Linked DNA regions of Homo sapiens. The protein of the gene in region 1 purifies or fractionates together with the protein of each later gene. This does not show direct contact. Each region holds a gene or a part of one and is shown in the gene's direction. Other genes may lie near its edges. The genes, in order: PTPN4, SIPA1 and TPR.

Evidence for each region.
Region 2: the proteins of PTPN4 (region 1) and SIPA1 purify together in Homo sapiens (co-immunoprecipitation; one large-scale study listed by IntAct). This does not show direct contact.
Region 3: the proteins of PTPN4 (region 1) and TPR purify together in Homo sapiens (affinity purification with mass spectrometry; one large-scale study listed by BioGRID and IntAct). This does not show direct contact.

The regions. Positions count from the first base shown.
Region 1 is NC_000002.12:119,951,887-119,955,538, forward strand, and holds part of PTPN4 (tyrosine-protein phosphatase non-receptor type 4), read left to right. Parts: intron 1-86; coding exon 87-243; intron 244-3,270; coding exon 3,271-3,437; intron 3,438-3,652. UniProt on the Homo sapiens protein: Phosphatase that plays a role in immunity, learning, synaptic plasticity or cell homeostasis. Regulates neuronal cell homeostasis by protecting neurons against apoptosis.
Region 2 is NC_000011.10:65,644,527-65,648,178, forward strand, and holds part of SIPA1 (signal-induced proliferation-associated protein 1), read left to right. Parts: intron 1-428; coding exon 429-603; intron 604-1,327; coding exon 1,328-1,431; intron 1,432-1,694; coding exon 1,695-1,852; intron 1,853-1,929; coding exon 1,930-2,539; intron 2,540-2,857; coding exon 2,858-3,132; intron 3,133-3,652. UniProt on the Homo sapiens protein: GTPase activator for the nuclear Ras-related regulatory proteins Rap1 and Rap2 in vitro, converting them to the putatively inactive GDP-bound state. Affects cell cycle progression.
Region 3 is NC_000001.11:186,333,740-186,337,391, reverse strand, and holds part of TPR (nucleoprotein TPR), read left to right. Parts: intron 1-235; coding exon 236-379; intron 380-697; coding exon 698-896; intron 897-1,848; coding exon 1,849-2,054; intron 2,055-2,262; coding exon 2,263-2,324; intron 2,325-2,858; coding exon 2,859-3,067; intron 3,068-3,652.

The DNA.
Region 1 (3,652 bases):
CTATTGGGTCTATTAAAATAAATTCCTGTGCTCTACTTTCAGAAAGTTGCATGCCAATCTGAAACCTTATCTATATTATATTACAGGCTGACCTCTGTGTCCCTAGACTGAATGAAGGGGACCAAGTTGTACTGATCAATGGTCGGGACATTGCAGAACACACTCATGATCAGGTTGTGCTGTTTATTAAAGCTAGTTGTGAGAGACATTCTGGGGAACTCATGCTTCTAGTTCGACCTAATGGTGAGTACTCTATGTAGTACCAGATAATTTATAGTAATTTATTACTGTTCATTACTGAGCACAGCAGCCAGATTTCTGACATAAAACATAAGTCACCTAAGTTTCCTGCTCAAAGCACAGTGGCTTTCATTGACACGTGGAGCAGAATTCAAGTTCTTTGCCCCCCCACCCCTTGCTCCCACTCAGCCTTGCTTACTTTCCTCTATTCTACACTAGCTTTCTTGCAGTTACTCAGATCTTCCAATCTAATCGACTTATTAGGGTTTTTATCCTTGCTGTTCCCTGTGCTGACATACTCTTTTTGATTTTGTTATGACTTATACCTATACTTCATTCAGGTCTCTGCTCAGATATCATCTTCAGAAGGGCTTTCTCTCCTGACTACCATAGCTAAAATGGTCTCCCATTTCCCCTAAATGGTAATAGTTGTAGTACTAGTACTCAATAAATACTAGTTGAATGAATGAGTAAATTTGAACTCTGTTCCACTTTTAGAAAATGCCATAACAAGCTATAGTTAAAGTGTTTTTAAAATACTGCCTTTGTTTTCAGTATATGATGTCTACTTGCCTAATCATGTCATCTCCCAATCTGGACAGCTGACTTGTTAATTCATAGTCATAGAATTCCAGGTTTGGAGAAAACTTGAATGCCGTAAGCTCTAGCTCTTTGGCTAATTGCACGAATTTCCTCCACAACAACCTCAAGAACATTCTACCAATATAGATAGAGCACTTTGTGGCTCCTGAAACAGGTCATTCCATCTTTGGATAGCTCAAACTATAAATTGAACTAAAAGTCCATCTTTCTTCAGTCCTGCTCCTAAGTCTGTCACTCTGTGCTATGCATTATAAGTTTAACCCCCTTTCCTTCAGTTTTTTGACAATAGCTAATTTTACCAGAAACCCACCTCCCTTTCTCCAGTTTAAGAGTCCTAGAGTCTTCAGCCAGTGTTCATATGGCATTGTTTAGAGTTCCCTCAACACTTTATCAGTCTGCTCTAAGAAAAAAGTTTTATATGTCTAATATCCCAGGATTAGACATATTCTTCTGGTTTTGTTCTATACAATTTACTATTAATCATTATTTTAGCCACAGAATAATTATTGTTAATGCCATATTACCACTTGAATATGTACCATAGGAAAGTGAAATATCATTCGAATTCTACTTGTCACCACCACACCCAACCCTGCAAAATTTTGCAAGGATATTTCTTTTTTGTAAACAAAAAATAAAAAATCCTCTTTGTACCTCTTGTTCACAAATAGGCGTTTTCATTTTATCTTCTCCACTTTGTGTTCTTTTCCATTAATGGTCTAGAATTGGCTTTCTAGGAAGATTAAAAGGACTTCAACAGAACATTCTATTTTGACTTTTCAAGGAACTTGTTCATTTAGACTTGATACTTAGGTGAGTCATTAGGTGTTTTCTGTCACATACAGCTACTTAAATTTTAAACCAGGAATAACATTTTTTTCTGTATTTATTGTATTATATTTTCTCTTGATAATAGATCCTAAAGAACTCAATAATATTAGCTAATAGTTATTAAAAACTTTCTGTGCACCTAGGCTCTTTTGTATATTTTCATTTAATCCTCATAGACATCCAATGAGATTGATGAATTATCCCCATTCTAGAGCTGAAGATACTTTGACACCAAGACATTCAGTTACCTGCTCACAGATTCATGACGCCACAGAGCCAGAATATGAACAAAAATCCATATGATGGCAAAGACCCAGCCTTTTTACAATTCCAGATCTCATCCTTTTGCTTTATAGTATGAGAGGAACCCACCAGGGTCTACTTCTTGCAAAATATCTTTCTAAATTGTTTCATAGTCAAAATACGGAGCAGAACCTGCATCTGTTTTCAGTGTGGGTCTGTCTTTTCCATTCTTAAAGTTTCATATAATTAAAATTTAAAACTGTGTTTGCCAAGAATATATTTTTGTTTTTCTGATCTTTTCTCCTTTAATTCTTATTTCTTCTTAGGCAAAATGTTGTCATACCTTTTTGTCTTTTCATTCTTCATTTCAGAAATTTATTTTTCTAAAAAAATGTATAGATATTCAAGGAGGAACCAGATCTCTTAGGCAAGGGTAAAGAGGCCCCTACCTTGGCTCCATGTTTTAGAAGGCCCTGCTTTGGCTCTCTTTCTTCTCCCAGTGGAGTCATAATTTTATAGGACCAAAAGGACATGCCAAGCTGTAACCTCCCTTCCCTTTCTATACCACTTTTTTTCAAACCTCAGTTCTGGGTCCAGATAACCCTGAGCCTCTCCAGATCTTCATGGGTATTTTCCACACATCCGTTCTCTCAAGGTGGGTTCACATGGTGTGTGTATCCTAGCCCAGAAGGTGGCTAAGAGGCTACAGTTTGTGGAGGGACAGGTATAGATATATCTTGCATGTGGGCTGGGATCTTCACATGTATGTTTATAAGCCCCTATGTTAAAAAATGGGACTGAGAGTGGGTAACGGTAGAATACAGGCCTAGGATCTAGGGTCTGAATCTCCTCACATTACCATGACCATGAATTCTGGCCTAGAATTCTCATTTATAGTCTGGCCTCCCAGGTTGTTTTGTAGATACATCACAGAAAGAGGATGAAGCATATTTTGTTTAGCACTGTGTTCAAGTTTTTTGTAACTTCTCATAGTTAAACATATGGTATATAGGTCTCTATTTGTACTCTTGCCCTAGGTCCCCTACAAATTAAGAGCGGGTGTATTCACAGCTGCTTCTCAGCAGCTCTTCTTTCTTACTGTCTCTTCAAGTTATAGACATTTTCAGCAATGTAGCCAAGAACACTTCTTCCCTCCAAAGGTACAGCAAAGCCCCTCAACTCCACAACTAGTTTCTGTCCCCCCATAGTGACACCAGACTCAGATCTGGTGTAATTCTTCACAAATGAATTATTTTTTGAACAAAACATTATACAGTGTATCTGGTAAATTCCTATCGTGTGAATTCATTAAGATTTCCACGTTTTGGGGTTTGTTTGATTTTTTTTTTTTAGCTGTATATGATGTAGTGGAAGAAAAGCTAGAAAATGAGCCAGATTTCCAGTATATTCCTGAGAAAGCCCCACTAGATAGTGTGCATCAGGATGACCATTCCCTGCGGGAGTCAATGATCCAGCTAGCTGAGGGGCTTATCACTGGAACAGTCCTGACACAGTTTGATGTAAGTAATATCATTATATATTAAAAGCATTTTGCTGATATTTGCTAACTAGTTTCATAGTTTCTTAAGTGCCTAATCTGTGCATTATAATTTCTAAACTAAAATGATATTCTGAGAAATGTTTGACATAAAGAGTTCTAAAATGCCAAGTTTTAAAAATTGCTCCCAAAATACTAGCTATGGTTATATAAATAGAATATGTTTTAAAAAGAGGG
Region 2 (3,652 bases), on another chromosome or scaffold:
GGGCATGGTTATCCAGTTATCCGCAGAGGGAAGAGCCGGGAAGAGGGCACAGAAATGGGAGCATGGGGGGCAGAGGTGGTGCCTGGCCTGCAGGGGCTGGGGTGGGGGTGCCTTGGATTCAGGGGTGCAGAGGACAGTCCAGCCTTGAGATAAGGAGGATGATAATGTGTATGTTTATTGGAAGGGTCCTTTCTGTGAATCACCTTCTCTACTGCCACATGGGAACCAGCCTCCTCCCATCCCTTCCTACCTGTGCACTCCCAAGCACGAGGAGCACAACAGACTGTACTCACCTGACAGGCAAGGGCACAAGTGGCTCAGAGAGGGCTGGTGCTCAGCCCCAGGCCAGCGTCCCATCCATTCCCTAAGAGCTGGTGGGGTGGGGCTGCAGGGGACTGAGACCTATGCCTTCTGTCTCCCACCCACAGCTGAGCTTCCAACGCAAGGTGGGCATCCTGTACTGCCGGGCGGGCCAGGGCTCGGAGGAGGAGATGTACAACAACCAGGAGGCGGGACCGGCCTTCATGCAGTTTCTCACCTTGCTGGGCGATGTGGTGCGGCTCAAAGGCTTTGAGAGTTACCGGGCCCAGCTAGACACCAAAAGTGAGGCCCAGGGGCAGGAGGGGTGGGAGCAGATCTGTGCTGAAGGGGTGAGCACAAATTGCCTTGTCACTCCTTTGTCCGTACAATCCTGGGGCTGGGGACTGGAGAGTTCTTTGGGTGAGCTAAGGATCTGAGTCAGGGCTATGAGGGCCAAGCTATGGGCTGAAAAGAGGGGCTGGGACTGTCCCTCAAGGCCCAAGTACCCTACTGCCTGAGCTGGGGCTAAAGTGGTTTGGGGGCACTACCCCTCCACCAAACACATTCCAGCAGCTCAGCCTCGTGGAAGAGAGGTGCCCCTACCTCCCTGGTGGAAGGGGCCCCAGGACCCCTGGGAGGTGTTGTACTGAGCACCCCCTGCCTGCTTTTCACTTTCCCAGCATGCCACACATGCTTGGGCCTGGAGTGACACCTGTCCTCCTAGGACACCTGACCCTGCCCTCCCTCTGAGACCACTTCTCATTTCTGTCTTCATTCTATTTCAACTCTCCCATCCTGACCCCCCTTCACTCTGGCATGGGGCTGGAGCCTGTGGAGGGAGAGGAGGAGGGGCACCCAGGGCTGAGGCCCTTGAATCTCGCTGGCTGGGCATTGGCTGGTGGCATGACTGGTTGTCCACCTGCTGTTTGGGGCACAGAGGCTCCTGTGTACAGGCAGGAATGGCAAGTTCAAGCCACTTAGATTCCCCTTGTTTTCTCCTTCTGTGTCCCTAACTTCCTGGCCACAGCGGATTCCACAGGCACGCACTCCCTCTACACCACATACCAGGACCACGAGATCATGTTCCACGTGTCCACGATGCTGCCTTACACCCCTAATAACCAGCAGCAGGTGTGAGGGGGACCAACGTGGGGGTGGGGCTTCCGGGAACCATGGAGGGCCCTGCATGGCCCATGACGTTTGAGCTTTGGCCGGAGCTCTGTTGGCCCCAACAGCCCGCCCCTCTGGTGGCCCCTTCCCAAAGACAGAAACACCCTAGGTCTTCACCAGGGGCAGTGGGGGAGCCATTGGTGCCTTGGCTTTCTCCTGCCTGAATGAGGAGGGGTTTGGGGCACAGAAGACCTCATCACGAGCCCCTACTATCCAACCCCTAGCTCCTCCGGAAGCGCCACATTGGCAACGACATTGTGACCATCGTGTTCCAGGAGCCTGGCAGCAAGCCCTTCTGCCCCACCACCATCCGCTCGCACTTCCAGCACGTGTTCCTAGTGGTGCGGGCACACACACCCTGCACGCCACACACCACCTACAGGTGGGCACCGGAGTGGTCCCAGGTCTCCCGTGGGCATGGAGTCCTGCCGCCCCTCACTAACGCCTCCCTCCCCGCAGGGTGGCCGTGAGCCGCACCCAGGACACCCCTGCCTTCGGGCCAGCTCTGCCTGCTGGCGGAGGCCCCTTCGCAGCCAACGCCGACTTCCGGGCCTTCCTGCTGGCCAAAGCGCTGAATGGTGAGCAGGCGGCCGGCCACGCGCGCCAGTTCCACGCCATGGCCACGCGCACCCGCCAGCAGTACCTGCAAGACCTGGCCACCAACGAGGTGACCACTACGTCGCTGGACTCGGCTTCACGCTTCGGCCTGCCCTCCCTGGGTGGGAGGCGCCGGGCGGCCCCTCGGGGCCCAGGCGCCGAGCTGCAGGCAGCGGGCTCACTGGTGTGGGGAGTGCGCGCGGCGCCCGGGGCGCGGGTCGCCGCCGGGGCTCAGGCGAGCGGCCCCGAAGGCATCGAGGTGCCCTGCCTGCTGGGCATCTCGGCCGAGGCTCTGGTGCTGGTGGCGCCGCGCGACGGCCGCGTAGTGTTCAATTGCGCCTGTCGCGACGTGCTGGCCTGGACCTTCTCCGAGCAGCAGCTGGACCTGTACCACGGCCGCGGGGAGGCGATCACGCTGCGCTTCGACGGGTCCCCCGGCCAAGCCGTGGGCGAGGTGGTGGCGCGCCTGCAGGTGAGCTGGAGTGGTAAACTGGGGCCCCTGCGCGCGGCGGGGCGGAGCCTGCTTTGGACCCCTCCCTCCCGCCGCCTTTGTCCCCTACTCCTGCGGAAGGGAAAGTCGAGGAGGGCAGAGCCAGCCCCGGGGCTTGGCAAGGCCGGAACTGGTGCCCTCGGGTAAGCGACTTCTGGTCTTCATCCCTCGGGCGGTGGCACACGCGGCCCTCGGGGACTGTGGAAAGTTCCGTGTGGCCTGGGACGCAGTCCAGGGGGCGGGCGCTGGGGCGGCCCCACCTCCCGGCAGCCCCGCCCACTCGTCCCGCCCCGTCCGCAGCTGGTGAGCCGTGGCTGCGAGACCCGCGAGCTGGCGCTGCCCCGCGACGGTCAAGGCCGCCTGGGCTTCGAGGTGGACGCCGAGGGATTCGTCACGCACGTGGAGCGCTTCACATTCGCCGAGACGGCGGGGCTGCGGCCCGGGGCGCGCCTCCTGCGCGTGTGCGGCCAGACTCTGCCCAGCCTCCGGCCCGAGGCCGCTGCCCAGCTCCTGCGCTCGGCGCCCAAGGTCTGCGTCACCGTCCTGCCCCCCGACGAGAGCGGCCGGCCCCGCAGGTCAGGGTGCCGGGGACGCGGGGAGGTGGGAGGGCCGGCAGTTGGCCACCGCGCAGTCTGCGCCTCCCGGGTCGCCATCAGCAGTTTCAGGAACCCAGTGTGGATACCTTTCCTTCTGGAAAGAATCTCCCGTCTCTTAGCCCGTCTGAGCCTGTCTCTTCCTGTCTCTGTCTCTCTCTCTTTCTCTGTCCTTCCTTCCTCTCTCTCTCCTCTCTCTTTTTTTTTTTTTTGAGACGAAGTATCCCTCTTGTTGCCCGGGCTGGAGTGCAATGGCGTGATTTCGGCTTACTGCAACATCCGCCTCCCAGGTTCAAGCAGTTCTCCTGCCTCAGCCTCCCTTGTAGCTGGGATTACAGGCATGCACCACCACGGCCGGTTAATTTTTTCTATTTTTAGTAGAGATGGGGTTTCACCAAGTTGGCCAGGCTGGTCTCGAACTCCTGACCTCAGGTGATCCACCTGCCTCGCCCTCCCAAAGTTCTGGGATTACAGGCGTGAGTCACCGCGCCCTGAACCTCTA
Region 3 (3,652 bases), on another chromosome or scaffold:
AAAATTCAACTATAATGCATCATTTTGATTAGCTGTTTAGTATTCAGTTATGTGGAAAACCATAACTAGTTCCCCATTTTTGGAGATTACAGTTGTTTCATAGAAAATTCTGTTTTGAATACCTTCAGGGATAAAATTTCTTTGCAAAGCTGTGATTATTTTCTTAGACAAACTTGCAGAAATGGAATTACTGAATATAAATATGTGAGTGTATTATTACTGTTTGTTGTCTTAGGTTATGGAGACATCGGCTCAGTCCTCTGGAGACCATCAGGAGCAGCATGTTTCAGTCCAGGAAATGCAGGAACTCAAAGAAACGCTCAACCAAGCTGAAACAAAATCAAAATCACTTGAAAGTCAAGTAGAGAATCTGCAGAAGGTATGAGTGTGAGAACAGTCTGTTCCTAATTCTTTCCTGTTATACACCTAAAGAAATATGTGTTAACTACTGACACTTTGTCTTACCATGTGGGAATGGATACATTTTATTCTTTTTACTTTGAATGGCTCATGTATGTAAGTAGTACCCAATCATCTTCAAGTGTGCATTTAGTTGGTCTGACCACCATTTTTATACTTATACTTCCATTTAATCTTTTAAAAAGCAAATTAATAAGTTATACTTTAAGTTGCTACCACATACAGTTTATATTGAAATGATTGAATTCCATGGTGAATACTTTGTTTTCCTTTAAAGACATTATCTGAAAAAGAGACAGAAGCAAGAAATCTCCAGGAACAGACTGTGCAACTTCAGTCTGAACTTTCACGACTTCGTCAGGATCTTCAAGATAGAACCACACAGGAGGAGCAGCTCCGACAACAGATAACTGAAAAGGAAGAAAAAACCAGAAAGGCTATTGTAGCAGCAAAGTCAAAAATTGCACACTTAGCTGGTAAATATCTGTTTAAAGTTTGAACTTGGTAGTGAAAGTTGATTATGTGTTGCAGGCCTAAAACTAAATGGAATAGAAATAAAAGGTATCTACTTATGAAGGGTGTTTGTGTGTGTATGTGTGCTTTAAATATTAGGAATAATTAGTTGGACACAAAGAGCAATCCTAATTTTCAAGTGATGAGGATATCCTTGATATGATGAAATTTTTCTCAATTGTTGGCTGGCAGTAGATAATGGAATACTGCTATCCTTCTGCTTTCATGGATAACAATTCTATCTTGTGACAGAGATCCTTTGAGCCCAGACCGTGCTGTCTAGAAACCTTATGTAGACTGCATAAAGATCTTTACCAGCCCAGGGATTTTTTTGTGCCTCGTTTGGTGGAGGACCCCTCTAGCTTTTCAGGGAGAGTATCATGTCAAATTTATGAAGAACCTAGTTCTTCAAGGCTCAGGGCTTTATTCAGCCTTGCCTATCAGTCTGCTGAGTAGTTAAATAAAATGTCAAATCAGTTGGATTTTGTTACAGGCATTTTTTTAAAATGATCTCTAAGACAGTGTCCTAACAACTTACTTGATTTTAAAAGTTCTTGAATTATTTTTAAACAGTGCTGTAGATTATATGAAATAAAAATTTTGCAATTCATAGTAATGAATTGCATGATACATTGAAATATAAACGGGCTTCTGTTAACTAGGATCTTTAGCTTTTTGAGATTTTAGTTAGGAAAAAGTAAATTTTTATGTTGGAGTAAGTATATTTTATATTCTAGTAATAAGTTAAAGCATGAATGTACTTAGAACTTTGCTCATTGAGATGTATGATGTATCATAACTAATGTAGATGTTATAGTAGTAGAATCTGATGTGACCATGTGCCAATTAAGTGCATAAATGCTGTTTTAAATGTTTGATTATAATATTAATATAATCGCCTGGTTACTTCTTTAGGTGTAAAAGATCAGCTAACTAAAGAAAATGAGGAGCTTAAACAAAGGAATGGAGCCTTAGATCAGCAGAAAGATGAATTGGATGTTCGCATTACTGCGCTAAAGTCCCAATATGAAGGTCGAATTAGTCGCTTGGAAAGAGAACTCAGGGAGCATCAAGAGAGACACCTTGAGCAGAGAGATGAGCCTCAAGAACCTTCTAATAAGGTGATTAGCTAATTCTGCTTAAGTAACAAATTGTTTTTCTTTGTACATTTTACTTGAAAGTGCTTGGTGATATAGGAGCCTTTGTCAGTGAATTTTGGCTAAAATTCAATATATGCGGAGAGAATTAACAATAATGACAATTTTTTTGTGGCATTTTTAGTGGACTCTTGTGGGCTAGGAACAACAATCAAGAGCTTTCTCTTTATAGGTCCCTGAACAGCAGAGACAGATCACATTGAAAACAACTCCAGCTTCTGGTGAAAGAGGAATGTGAGTTTTAGTTATTTCATAGTCTGTTATTTTTCTTTTAAAGCTCAGGGAATATCTAGTGATCTTTCTGTTTAGGAAAAAGAAATCTGTGTATTCTATTGTAAAAACATACACTAAAGAGTTGTTTTCTCTGCAGAACTGTATCATGTATTTGCCAGCTTGTTTTCACCATACTTTCAGTCCTATCAGATGAAGCTTTGTGACAGAGAAAACGTCTCTCATCTTTTAGTTTACAGTTGGTTTCTAAGTTAGGCTGCTACTGATTTTCCCCGTGATGTTACATGATGACAGATAGAAAATGCTGGGCTGAGACTTGGGTTCAGCAATTCAACAGCTAGATACATTTTACATTGTCAGGATGCACCACTCTGGAGCATTCCCTGTGTAGTTTTTAATGCTTAAATTCAAAACAGCTTTAATAAGGCTCTGAAATATTTAGTGAACAAAAAAATGGAGACCTATACTCACTGTGTTTTTAAAAGTATTTGCATAATAATTTGTTATTAATTATTCTTCCATTTTCTCCTCTATAAGTGCCAGCACATCAGACCCACCAACAGCCAATATCAAGCCAACTCCTGTTGTGTCTACTCCAAGTAAAGTGACAGCTGCAGCTATGGCTGGAAATAAGTCAACACCCAGGGCTAGTATCCGCCCAATGGTTACACCTGCAACTGTTACAAATCCCACTACTACCCCAACAGCTACAGTGATGCCCACTACACAAGTGGAATCACAGGAAGGTTAGTAAAATAATACAGATCTGATGAGACTGCTTATTTAGATTTATTATGAGAAGATGACAGTAATTTCAAAGACAAATGAAGCATCCACTACAGCTGAAGTCACGTCATTGTAAAAATGGGTGTTTAATATTTGAAGGACATACTTCTAGGACCAAAATTTTCACTTGTAATGACAAAGAATATATGAAATCCACTTTGGAAAATCATACTGAATTACTGGCTCAATCCAACATTGCTTTCTCACTGAAACTGACCATTTCATTGCTTTCTTCAATTTTTTCCCATGACACTCTTGTTATTCATTACAGCAATTACAACTTTGTATTTTATTCTGTGGTATACATGCTTTTTACTCCACTACATTGAGCTCCTCAAGGGCAAAAATCTCAGCTTCTTATTGTTTAATCCCTTTACCTAACTCCACAGTAGGTGTTCAGTAAAACTTTGCTACCTGCATATTTCCTTAGATTCTTATCTTGACAAATGTTAGAATTCAGTAAATTATTCAAGTATTTCTGTGCTGTGAAAGTAGAGAATGTTTTATTTCAGCTACATCCAATAAACTAAATATATTACTAATCA